2 linked regions of the Homo sapiens genome follow. The protein of the gene in region 2 interacts with the protein of the main gene of each other region in a pairwise test. Each region holds a gene or a part of one and is shown on either strand. Other genes may lie near its edges. The genes, in order: ZNF451 and FAM118A.

Region 1 (3,819 bases), on a different chromosome or scaffold from region 2:
TGAACATACTATGATTCAGTGTAACATTAAAAATGTAGTGGCTAGGAATCACATTTTCTTTTTATGGTAGTAATAATAAAAAATAGCTATTATTTGTTAAATAGCTAAAGTGCTTTATATACTGTGCTAGACACTTTACATACATCACTAACTATTACAACCATATAAATACAAAAAAATGAGGCTCCAAAAAAGTTAAGTAACATGCCTGAAATCGCGCTGCTAGGAAACAGCAAAGTTAGCATTTGAACCAAAGCCCATATCCTTCTTCATGCAGTGCACAATCTCTGTATGTCACAAAAACTAAGAATAAAGTACACATGTGCCTCCAGAGAGTAGTTAGTTCAAATGAGTACTGAGTATGAGTGATTAAAAAAAAAAAAAAAAAAAAAGAATACCTAGAACATAAGAGTCATTTGGAAGGGCATAATCAGCAGATATTAATAACCTGTATCTTACCTCCAACTGTAATATACCCATGCAAGTCTACTCGTATTCACCTCTCATTCCAAACAGAATATGGTTTTGCCTCTGCAAAACCATAACAGGTTTCACATTTGGAGTTATAAAAGAAATGTTCCCAAAAGCAGAAGCATAAGAGAAGGAAAGGGAGGTTGGCCTTGTGCGGCAAAGGTAAAACTTTATCTTATAGGATATTAAGTAGATGTTGAGAACTGGGAAAGCGATGGCAAAAGAGTAGAAGAGGTGTTTTGCTTTTTGTTTGAGACGAAGTTTTTGGTCTTATTGCCCAGGCTGGAGCGCAATGGTGCAATCTCAGCTCACTGCAACCTCCGCCTCCTGGGTTCAAGCGATTCTCCTGCCTCAGCCTCCCGAGTAGCTGGGATTACAGGCAACCGCCACCATGCCCAGCTAATTTTTGTATATTTAGTAGAGATGGGTTTTCACCATGTTGACCAGGCTGGTCTTGAACTTCTGACCTCAGGTGATCCACCCACCTCAGCCTCCCAAAGTGCTGGGATTACAGGTGTGAGCCACTGCACCCAGCCTGTTTTTTTTGTTTTTTTGTTTTTTGTTTTAAGAAAAAAGAAAGCCACAGATAGAAAAACAAGTGAAAACAAAAATTACAGAATAGGAAGATAATACTCAGAACTAAGGCATGACATAAAGACACAAGAGTTCATTTTCTTTTATAATCTTCCATCATTACTCCACTTTAAAGAGTATAAAGAGCACAGATTACTGATTCCTAACTTTGCAGAAGTGAATTGATCCACTGTAATCAGTGATTACAGCAAAATTCTCCAGAATGAGTTTTCAATCAAAATGTGCTTCCAAATATATTGAAAGAAAAAAAAAATCTAGGAGGCAAGCAGACTTGAAAGCTTTAAAGGCACACAATAAAAATGCCAAAAAGCCACTATTTTTCATTAAGGTAATTCATTAATATCTTCAAACCTTATTCATGAATTTAAATTATTAGGATATTTAAACATTAATTATTCTATCCATATTTCTTTACTTCAGAGATTATGAAAAAGGGGGTTATAACTCAGTGGTAGAGCATTTGACTGCAGAAATTATGAAAAACGAAAAACAAAACTTCTGAATCCTTAGAATTACATCTTTTCTTATATACTAGGAAGTGAAATTGGGTATCAGCACTCCTTTCATTGAACAATCTCACAAAGGTACAGAAGAAAGTGCAAGTCCCAGCAATAAGATAGGATGTACCCACTTCTCTAAGGACCTAAAAGCCTATCAGCGTTTTATTTTGTCACTGTCAACCTCTTAAATGATCACCTTTGTTATTGCTTTCTGGTTTTCACCTCTAAGCGCACTGCTTTCTAAAAAACTGAAGGTCAACTTGGAATTTCAGAAACAAAGTGAAGATCTGAATTCTGAGCTTTTAAAATTGTAGTAACATACTGTAACACATGAATATATGTTTTATATACATCAATATAGATTTTATCTACTAGATCAAAAAAAGCTCCAGAAAATTATTATGAATTCATCCTCCTTCTAAAACACTAAAGAATGAAAGTGAGATTTTTTTAAAAAAGATAAGTAAGATAGAAGTAAGAGAACATGATGGTTTAGCAAGCAGGCAACAGTTCACTAGCGGACAGCAGTTTATTGGTTTCTCTCAGCAGTGAAGTCTCCTCCTCTTGGGTGGTTTGCACTGTGACTGCAGCTGCGTACCTTTGGTGGTATCAGATATGCTATTTAACAAGGCACACATCATATCTCCCTCTAAGTGGTGAGGGTTTAGTATATGAGCTGGCCTCTGAGTCTTCTTAAATTGATTCTCTAGCTCCAGAAAACCTTGATCTCCTGAGAGGATGGTGAAAGGAATTTGCTTGGGTAGTTGTTCATCTAGACGGCCAGCCTAAGTTAGAACAAATGGCACAGGTTGATAAAAAATCAGCATGAGTTTCAAAACAAGTTACATCTATTTCAGAATGAACACATGCCTAGGAAGGTATATTAAGCTTGTTCCCTAGTCCCTACCAAAGTATGACATAAAGATCTCCTTCAGCTGGGTGCAGTGGCTCACGCCTGTAATCCCAACACTTTGGGAGGCTAAAGCAGGTGGATCGCTTGAGGTCAGGAGTTCGAGACCAGCCCGGCCAACATGGTGAAACGCGGTCTCTATTAAAAAATGCAAAAATTAGCTGGGTGTGGTGGCATGCGCTTGTAATCCCAACTACTCGGGATTCTCCAGGCTGAGGCTGGAGAATCACTTGAACTCGGGAGGCAGAAGTTGCAGCCAAGATCGCGCCACTGCACTCCAGCCTGGGCGACAGAGTGACACTCCGTCTCAAAAAGGAAAAAAAAAAAAAGAGAGAAAGAAAGAACTCGTTCATAAATGAAATACCCCACATTTAATCAAATATAAGATGCCATTAAATTATATAAGCTATTTAATGTGCCATGAAAAGAAAAAGCCAAAATGGAAGTCCAACAGACCTCACATAAGGTTGAAATGCCAAAGGGCTATACGCTCAATATAAGGGTAAATAAGAAATAAATCTGCCATAGAGAAAAGGTAAGCAAGGCAATTTGCATGATTCAATCTTGGCATTAGATAGACTGAAAAAGAAATCTTTTGTTGTTTAAACCATAAGCTGCAGTCAACAAGTTTGCAGAGTAAATTCACATTATCAGTGTGACATGTAAGTCCCCAAGCAGAAAATTTAAAGTGGGTCTCAGTTTGGCAGTTTCTCTAGGTACCCAGCAGAGACAGAAGCAAATGCAAATTCTGTCTAGGCCAACAGTGATTGTTAAGGTACCTCTTAATTTTAGAGATATTAAAATATGAAAGTGTCTTAATATATATCAAATACAGTATCATCAGCAGGGCGCAGTGGCTCACACCTGTAATCCCAGCACTTTGGGAGGCCTAGGCGGGCAGATCACTTGAGGCCAGGAGTTTGAGACCAGCCTGGCTAACATGGAGAAACCCCGTCTCTACTAAAAATACAAGTATTAGCTGGGCATGGTGGTATGCTCCTGTAGTCCCAGCTACTTGGGAGGCTGAGGCACAAGAACCATTTCAGCCCAGGGGGCTGAGGTTGCAGTGAGCCGAGACTGCGCCACTGCACTCCAGCCTGGGTGACAGAGCGAGACTGTCTCAAAAACAAACCCAAAAAACAGTATCAGCTCTTGATCATTTATCCCACAAATAGTTGAGGGTCTACTATGGATAGCTGAAGGTTTGCTAGAAGTTGAGGATAAAGCAATAAAAATATGCTATGGGGTCCTGCCTTCATAATAGTCATAGGTAGAACCTGAAGTACTGAAGAATGATCTATAAGTCTCATTACAATTCAAGTGGGGAAAAAAATGCAAGTGGGT
Region 2 (3,819 bases):
CAGTGTAGCCAGGGTGGATCTTGAGGACTGGAATGTCCTTAAAGGAGGCCAGAATCTATCCACTGCATTCTGACTACACCAAGGCAGCTCTGGAAGACCGGGAGCCTTCAAGCAAGCCCTTCCCAGCATGACCCTCAGCAAGACAGATGACTGCATGCTATGGAAGCTCAACGGCCAGACCCTGCTCATTAATATCCTCCTCTCCCTTCATTCTAGATGTGATTCCCACAAACTTCCTTTTTCACAGCCATCAGGTTCCCACGTAGGCTTGGGAGAGGAGAAGAGTGTGGCGGCAGAAATCACTGAGCAAGGCTGGATGTGGAGGCTCACACCTGTAATCCCAGCACTTTGGGAGGCCGAGGCGGCCGGATCACCTAAAGTAAGGAGGTCGAGACCAGCCTGGCCAACATGGTGAAACCGTGTCTCTAATAAAAATACAAAAATAAGCCAGGTATGGTGGTGCGCACCTGTAATCCCAGCTACTCTGGAGGCTAAGACAGGAGAATCGCTTGAACCCGGGAGGCAGAGGTTGCAGTGAGCCGAGATCGTGCCACTGCACTCCACACTGAGTGACAGAGCAAGACTCCATCTCAAAAATCAAATCAAATCACTGAGCAACAGTCTTCAAGCACATGTGACAGTCATATTTCTAACCACAAATGAACCATCTGCGATCCAGCTGATAGGTTTCTGGTGAGTTTGATTAGCATGACTAGGGTCACCTGAACTGGAAACAAGGCACAAATGGGCAAAAAATTAAGCTTCTGGAACTGCAAAGGAGAGGCTTAGCCTTGAAACCACAACACCCCCACCTGAAGCAGCATTAGGACTAAGGTGCAGAAAACACAGGATCTGGAGACAAGGAAACACCACCCTTTCCCCAGCCAGGTAGACCTCTCTAAACCTGTTTCCCCCAGCCAGGTAGACCTCTCTAAACCTGTTTCCCCCAGCCAGGTAGACCTCTCTAAACCTATTTCCCCCAGCCAGGTAGACCTCTCTAAACCTGTTTCCCCCAGCCAGGTAGACCTCTCTAAACCTGTTTCTCCATCTCCCAAATGGGGATCCCAACATGCACATCACCGACGGGGCTGCTGCAGACATTCAAGGGAGACGCGTATCTGAAAGGCACTTAATAAAGTGTACAGTGTCTGTTACTCTCAACCGCCTCACGCTAGCACCACTCTTCCAAGGCAGTCACCACAACTACATTTCAGTGTAATCATGGTTCTGGTAAAACTTAATCTCAGCCATTACTAATAATAAGGGATCTTCAGGATGAGTTATTTTCTTCAATTTACAGAAAATATGAACCCTTAATTTGAACGCACTCCACTTAACCAATTACTTTTTATTCTGTTGAACTTAATTATAATGGGAAAAATGCCTTATTTTGTAATGATGGAAATAAGTTAATTGGATTCCTGAAACCAGTCCCACCAAACAGAGCTGCTTGGACGTATACACCCAAACCAGGAAAACAGCAAAACCCACCACTAGAAAAAGAATCTAATTCAAATTTAGTTTAATTTGGTCACAAATTAATTCAAAGAGCAACATTAATTACTGCCACTTTTTCAGCCTTTAATAGAGATTCAAGGGAAAATGCTAAGCGTTTTACACGCACTATCTCAGTTAACCTCAATAACCCGATGAGGTGGCGACTCCTATGACCCACAGCCTGGCCAAGGCCGATAGTGAACCCTTCTAACAGGCCAGCCCCAAGTTGTGTATTATATATTCTTGCGCCTTTCTTCCTAACATCAGTGCAGCTTGAAATGGCAAACAAATATACCTGATATTTTACTGGGAACTCTGCCATCCACTAAAGCATTCAGCATTTTACATACAGTTTGTCCACCAGATGTGACACATTAACTCAAATAAACGTGTTACTTAACAAGCCAATGTTAAAACACGCCAAGACAGAGGCCAGGGGCTTGTGGACCCACCTGCCTTTACCCCACCTCAAGAGGATACGTAAGACATGTTCTAGAAGGTAAACCTCCAACAAAATGTAAAATGACAGAATTTCAGAGCGGGCAGGATCTTAAAGGTTACATGAAACCAAATGCCCTAATTTTTCAGAAGTGAAAATTGAGACTAAGAGACAGTGACTTTGTCAACTTCCCCCACGGGGCTGGGAACAAGCTATAAAGTAACTCCTGGCTCATGTCCCATACCCTTCCCACCGGCCTGGGCATTGTCTGGTCCACTGTGACCCCAACACTTTAAGGCACTCATTTCTACCTCTTTACCACCAAATCATTACAAATAAGGCACAGTTTAGTTTTCTACAGTTTCTCCTTCCCCGGAAATGTTGAAAGAGTTGCCATTAGGCAGATAGAAGAGGCGGCAGGCAGAGCAGCTCCAGGAAAAAGACCAGCCCCTGCACAGTGTGCTTATCATTCAACTGTCCATGTTAGCTTGGGGGGCGGGGTGGGAACAGATAAGGAGGGCCACATGGAGGAACAATGCTACCAACTCAAGAGGACGGCATTTTCCTGACAAGGAGATGCTGCAGGCTCCTTGGGGGAAGGAGGTAGGATACAGCAGCAACAGCCTGGCCAACAAATCAGTACTGGCTGAACTCCTTACTACCTGGGCAAGGACTCATTCCTGAGCCTATTTACTTTTTCTACAAAGGAAAGAATATCTTATACCTCCTAAGGTTGCTGGAAGCATTAAATGGAATAAAAGAACAAAGCCTGGAACAGTGTGCTTCCTACTACACCCTAGATGTGTGATAGGGAATCCTTCCTAGATTTAATTAAAATTAAAGCTAAATAAAATTAAACAGCTGCGTCACATTAGTCATATTTTCAGTGTTCGGCGGCCACAAGCGGCCAGTGTGTACTGGACAACAGTCATTACATTTTGGTTACCACAGGAAGTTCCATTGTGCAGTTATCCCTGAGTCTGTCTCTCCCTCACCTAAGCCCAGACTTCAACAAACAAGTCCTGTAGATTTTTCTTCCTAAATCTGTTTAATCCATACCGTCTGCCACAGTCTTAAAGCCCTCACAACTTGGCTGGGAGTGGTGGCTCACACCTGTAATCCCAGCACTTTGGGAGGCCGAGGCGAATGGATCACCTGAGGTTGGGAGTTTAAGACCAGCCTGGCCAACATAGTGAAACCCCGTCTCTACTAAAAATACAAAAAGTAGCTGGGCAAGGTGGCAGGCGCCTGTAATCCCAGCTACTTGGGAGGCTGAGGCAGGAGAATCGCTTGAATCTGGGAGGCAGAGGTTGCAGTGAGCCGAGATCGCACCATTGCACTCCAGCCCTGGCAACAAGAGCAAAACTCCATCTCAAAAAAAAAAAAAAAAAAAACCCTCACGACATGTCTGACACTGAAAGGCACCTGCTTCCAGTTCCAGCCCCTCTAGTCCTCTAGTCCCACATAGTCACCAGAGGGAAATTTCTGACACATCTGAACTTGTCTCCCCTCCAACAGCTTTGCATTTTGTTGAAATCTCTACTTGGTCTTCATCCTGTTTCCCGTCTTACTACTCCTAGAATCCCTGGAATCTCCAAAGTGCTGTCATTTTGTATGCTAATGAGCTGATTGACGCAGATAGGCCCTGGGCAGCTTCAGAAGGGGGCTTATCACCAGAAAGACCAAGGCAGGATTAGATCCTTGGAACTTTCAGCCCCACCCACTAACCTGGGGAAGAGAGGGCTAAAGATTACGTTGATCACCAAAGGCCAATGGTTTAATTAAGCATGCCTACATGCTTAAGTCGTCTCCATAAAAGGCATAAAAGGGCTGGGTTCTGAGAGCTTCCTGAGAGATAAATACAAACATGCCGAAGTTTCTGG

The links.
Region 1: the proteins of FAM118A (region 2) and ZNF451 interact in a two-hybrid assay, tested with the Homo sapiens proteins (one large-scale study listed by BioGRID and IntAct).

What each region holds. Positions count from the first base shown.
Region 1 is NC_000006.12:57,152,392-57,156,210, reverse strand, and holds part of ZNF451 (E3 SUMO-protein ligase ZNF451), read right to left. Parts: intron 2,351-3,819; coding exon 2,164-2,350; intron 1-2,163. UniProt on the Homo sapiens protein: E3 SUMO-protein ligase; has a preference for SUMO2 and SUMO3 and facilitates UBE2I/UBC9-mediated sumoylation of target proteins. Plays a role in protein SUMO2 modification in response to stress caused by DNA damage and by proteasome inhibitors (in vitro).
Region 2 is NC_000022.11:45,312,831-45,316,649, reverse strand, and holds part of FAM118A (protein FAM118A), read right to left. Parts: intron 1-3,819.